2 separate regions of the Homo sapiens genome follow, and region 1 is linked to region 2. Evidence: fine-mapped expression QTL. Tissue or cell type: whole blood. Region 2 holds a variant in brackets; the other region holds the start of a gene. All regions are shown on one strand. Distances are from middle to middle.

Region 1 (2,684 bases), 220 kb before region 2:
ACTCCCTCTTCCCCTTTCACGCTCTCCCCTCTTCCCTGGAGCCCGGTCCGACGACCAGCCCCGCACCCCCCTTTTCTGTCCCCGAAGTCCCCTCCCGGGTTGGCCCTATAAGCTGTCAGGCTGGCAGGCAGGGGTTAATTGCGCTCGCAGCTTCGGCACTGGGAAGCACCAGCGGGGCTTTGGAGCGGCCTCTGGAATAACCTTGGCTTTCCTCGCTCTTTTAATAGAACATCCGCCACCAAAAAGTGGTTTCAGTTCAGGGTTAACATGTCCCCTTCCACTCTCCAAACCAACACCCTGCCCCCTCCGTTTTTTTAAAAGTTGTTTTTCAAAGTTAATGAGTTTTAAGTTTCACAATGACTTTCCCCTTCCTTCTACGCGTTGCTGAGGAAACCCCCTTGGGGTCCCCCCCCCCCCCCGCCTCCCCCTCCCCCATTCTGCCCGGGCGAGGGGCGGGGCCGGGAGACCCCATGACGTCAGCGGCCGGCCCACATCCTGCTGTAGAAAGTAAAGAGACGGTAAAGAGAAACTACGGCCCCGCCCGTCCCGTCCCTCTTCCCGGACCAACCGCCCCCAACTGAGCGACCCCGCCAGGCCTTCCCGGGGCCGCGTGACTGGCCGGGCCCGCCCCTCCGCCCCCGCCGTGTGCTGGTTCCCCAGGCGTCGCGACCCAGGGCTCCCGCCCCCCGCGTCCCTAACCCCGCCCCTCCCCCCCGGGCTGCGCTGCCACCTCCTCCCGCGTCCCCCTCCCGTCCCTGCGGCGGCTCGGCCGGGCGGGGCGGGGAGGGGCGAAGCGGCGGGTAGGTGGCGGGGCCGGCGCGGTCTGGGGCCCGCCCCGCCGGGGAGACCCGGGGCACTGGCTCCGGGTTCGTGCCGGGCCGGGCGCCCATCCAGTCCCTACACCCGGTCAGAGCTGGCGGCCGCGCCGGCCCAGCTGGGCCCCGGCGCCTGGGCGTCCCGCGCCCCTCGCCCCGGCCTCAACCCCAGCCCCCGCGGGGACGCCCCCTCCCCCGCCCACGCGTCGCCGCCCGCGGCCTCCCCTCCTCCCGCCCCCGGGGATCCCCTGCCGCCCCGCCCACCCGCGGGAAAGCCTCCGACCTTCGCCCTGCCTCCCCCGCGCCGCCCGGCCCGCGTTCCTCCCGCCGGCCCCAAAGACGCTAAACGTGCCCTACTCTGCCCCGGGGGAGAGGTAAAGCCCGCGCCCGTCCTTCCCGCCCCGGGCCCCGCGGCCCCAGGGTCTGTCCGCCCGCCCCGCCGCGGCGCGCGCCCCCCAGCCCGGCTGCCCGGCTCCCTGGCGGCCGCGATCATGCCGTGGCTCCGGGCGCCGGCGAGCTTCGCCGCCTCCTCCGCCCGGCGGCTGCGGCCCCCGCCCGCGCGCCCCGCGCTCCCCCCCCCGCCCCCCGGCCCGCTCCCCTGTTTAATATTTCAGTGCTGGGTGGTGTGAGCGCCAGTCGCCGGCCTTCAGCGTGGCGGCTGCTGGGCGGCGGCAGGGTGGCGGACGGAGCGGGGGACCGGGGAGCGGCGGCCGCCGGAGGAGGTTATGTTTGTGTTTGGGGTTGTCAAGTGAAGGAGGGATCCCAGGCGCCGCCGCCGCCGCCGCGCGGGGGTCGCGGAGATCCCGAGCCGCGGCCGCCGCCATCAGCAGCGCAGCTCCAGGGCCGGCTGCAGCGGCAGCGGCTCCGCCGGGCGTCCTGGCAGCAGGTTCGGCGCGGGCTCCGCGGCGGGGGCGCTGCAGCTGGGGAGGGCGGCGGGGCGGAGGGGGGGGGGGGCAGGAGCACATCCCTTCGGCGGGCGGGGGGCGTGCGGGCGCGCGTGTGTGTGTGTGTGTGCGTGTGTGTGCAACCGCCGACCTTGCAGAGGGGATGGCTGCGTGCGGGAGACCCTTGGCACTTCTGGGCGCCCTCGCCGCGCGCGAGCCGAGCAGGTACAGAGGGACCCAGCCTCCCCAGCCGCCTTCCAGCCGCAGACGCATTTTGCAAGAGGGTGGGGGGTGAAAGAGACCAGGCCTCGGCATCCCAACCTCCCGGCTTTGTGGGTTTCTTTCCCTTTCGTTCTTTGCTCTAAGTGCCTGTTTACTCCCGGCCACCTGGGTAGTTTCTTTCCGGGTTGGGAGTGCGCGCCAGCTGCAGTTGGGAAGGGGGCGGTGGGTTGGGGTGCGGGTCGGCTCGGGCTCGCCTTGGGGTCGGGCTCGGGAAGGAGTTGCTGGCTGGAGAGGGGAGGGGGCGGCGGCGGAGCAGGCGGCGAGGAGGAGTCTCAGGGCTGCCGCGCTCGCCTCATCTCGTCCTCCTCCTCCTCAGCTCTCTGCATCCACTCCAGGCTCCTTCCTGAGCTGGCACTTCCATTCCCCCCCTCCTCCTGGCATGCGAAGCGCTTTGTTCAGTGCAGCGTTGCAGAGGGGTTTTCCCAGGCTCCGCCCTCCACATTCATTCATGTTTTTTCTCCTTGCAACTGTCTTTACGCTTTTTGATCGTGTCATGTTTTTGCTCCATGTAGTATTTATTTCTTTCCCGTAAAGGAACGGTTTATCACTCGTCCTAGTCGCTACAATGCTGCTGTCTTTGGAAATACCCACTTCCCCCCACAAGGATTTAAATATGGGATGGACAGCTAGGGACAGTGGGTAGGCAATGAACGGGGTAGCAGAAAGCCTTTACGGACAGGGAATGTGCATATTTTACATTTAT
Region 2 (2,684 bases):
CTCATGTCCTTCCTTCTCACCCATCTTCTTGAATACGACTCCCCAACACATGGACACACAAGCATGTGCATATACACACACACACACTCTTCACCCATCCATAAGGTCCATGCTCCCCAGGGATTCGGGAATCTAGAGGGTGCTGTCAGCAGCCTGTCTGGGGCCATAAAGCATAACTGCCAAGCTGCAGGATTGAAGACAAAATTCCGATGCAAAGATAGGAGCACAGATAGGGACATACAAAGGCAGATGGCACCATAGCCCAGGAGCCCTAGATCCCTGGATCCCTGGGTATGTGTGAGCAAAGGGGAAGGGAGTGGTAACGGAGAGGGTGAGAAACTCATGCAGCTATTTTGTAGTACCTTCAACTCAGGACTCCTCAACCTCTTAAAAACCAGTTTCATCTTAACTTGGTTTAACCAAGTTTGCCTTCAGTAACAGTAATTTTTTATTTAAAAGTTTTATTATGTGGTGAGAATGTTTAAAAACTTACTCTTAGAAATTTTGCAGTATACAATACATCATTATTAATTATGGTCACCATGCTATGCAATAGATCCCTAACACTTATTTCTCCTGTTTACCTGAAAGAGTAAATTTTGAATATTCTCACCCTAAAAAATTTGTAAGTAGGTGAGGTTAATTAGCATGTTAATTAGCTTTAATTTTTCTACAATGTATACATATATCAAAACATCTTATTGTACCTTGTAATTTATACAATTCTTTTTTTTTTTTTTTTTTTTTTGAGGTGGAGTCTCACCCTGTTGCAGAGGCTGGAATGCAGTGGCACGATCTTGGCTCACTGCAACCTCTGCCTCCTGGGTTCAAGCGATTCTCCTGCCTCAGCCTCCCTAGTAGCTGGGATTACAGATGCCTACCACCATGCCCAGCTATTTTTTTTTGTATTTTAGTAGAGACAGGGTTTCGCCATGTTGGCCAGGCTTGGTCTCTAACTCCTGACCCCATGATCCTCCCGCCTCAGCCTCGCAGAGTGCTGGGATTACAGGCGTGAGCCACCACGCCTGGCCTGTAATATATACAATTCTTATTTGTCAATTAAAAATAAGAGAATATTAAATAAGAATTAAAACTAGAAAAACATTTTATTATTGGCAGTATTTGGGTCATGCAAAAGAATATATGTAACATATCTCAGTATTGTCACACAATGACAACACAAATACTTGTGAGGCAATGAAGTTCACATGTCAATGCTGAGCCCCGTATCTCAAGTGCCCCTAACTTTTCATAGTCACATGACATTCCTTTTACAGAACATACAAACTTTCATGCTAGATATTGAAAAGAAGTCTAAAAATGCAGCTACCAGGGGGAATCAACAAGTTGGTATGAATGAGCTTCAGGCAAGGCATAAATGGTGGCAGCCAGTTATGAGAGGGTTGGAAGGGGAAAGGTTCTTCAGGCCTGGGGGATGAGGGGCAGGGAAGGATTCATACCTCCTAAGGAGGAGGAAGAAAGGGGGGCTAGATATTAAAAAAGAAAATGCCCCAAGTTTTATAAGACTTCTCCCACACGTGCACCCCACTAACTGTCTCTATTC[A/G]GAGACATATAAAAATTGTGGACAGAAGTACTTCAAAATCTGTTTCGTCACAGGTGAGAAAGTACACAGCTTTGTAGAGACTATTTCCAAGATGGTAATATTTATATCGGCAATATTTATAATTTATGGAGTGCATATTGAGTGTCTTATGCTAAACTCTGGGGCTATAACTCAGAAAAATGAGATTTAGAGCTCAGGCATGCTACAGCCCAGAAGGCAGACAGACAAGAACTTAGAAAATTCCAAAACAGTCTCAAAGGGTGATTCTCTTACTCCAGTTTGATACACACTTCCACTGCATCCTAGAGCCTCTTCAGAATTAAGATAAAACATTTCTTGGTGCAGTAATTTTTTTTTTTTGAGGTGGAGTCTTGCTCTGTCGCCCAAGCTGGAGTGCAGTGGTGTGATCTCAGTTCACTGTGACCTCCGCCTCCCAGGTTCGAGTGTTCTCCTGCCTCAGCCTACTGAGTAGCTGGGATAACAGGCATGCACCACCATGTCAGGCTAATATTTTTGTATTTTTAGTCGAGACAGGGTTTCACCATGTTGGCCAGGCTGGTCTCAAACTCCTGACCTCAAGTGATCTGCCCACCTCAGCCTCCCAAAGTGCTGGAATTACAGGCGTGAGCCACCACACCTGGCCAAGTGTAGTGATTTATTTAATGCCTGTCTTCGCTGATGTTTTGTTAGCTCCAAGAGACAGGACTTGTGTCCATCTTGTGGACTGCCATACACTGGCACCTTACTCTGGCTGGCGCTTAATAAATAATCATTATATAAGTGAGTGGGTAAATGAATGAATGCTAGAAAAGAGGCAAGCATGGCGTGCTGAGTGGCCAGTAACCATCCTGGGGGTCAGAGAGGCTTTGGGGAAGAAGTGATATTTAAGCCGAAACCTGAAGGAGAAATGGTATTTAGCCAGGTAAAGAAAGAGCAACGCTTCAAAAGCCCAGAGGCAAGAGCTCTTGGAGCAGCCTGAGGGTACTGGAAACGAAACTGCATGGCTGAAGCTTACAGATGCTGCTCTGTGCATGGGCTGTTGTGCAAAGTAGAAACTTCTCATCTCGAGGTGAATAAATTGCAGAAGGGCGTCCCCTCTCTAGGCCAACCAATGAGAAAA

What was found. PIP is the estimated chance that this variant, and not a neighbour inherited with it, causes the effect.
Region 1: it holds the start of HIVEP1, and the variant in region 2 is fine-mapped to the expression of HIVEP1 in whole blood (INTERVAL, PIP 0.94).

What each region holds. Positions count from the first base shown.
Region 1 is chr6:12,010,866-12,013,549 of GRCh38, forward strand. It overlaps HIVEP1 (HIVEP zinc finger 1), which reads left to right and starts at 1,447. Exons shown (of 9, transcript NM_002114.4): 1 at 1,447-1,701. RefSeq lists an enhancer at 1-42 and silencers at 372-1,281, 1,462-1,601.
Region 2 is chr6:12,226,059-12,228,742 of GRCh38, forward strand. No RefSeq gene overlaps it. Among named protein-coding and RNA genes, the nearest start is that of EDN1, 63 kb to the right of the region's middle. The variant A/G (reference allele first, on the strand shown) is at 1,565.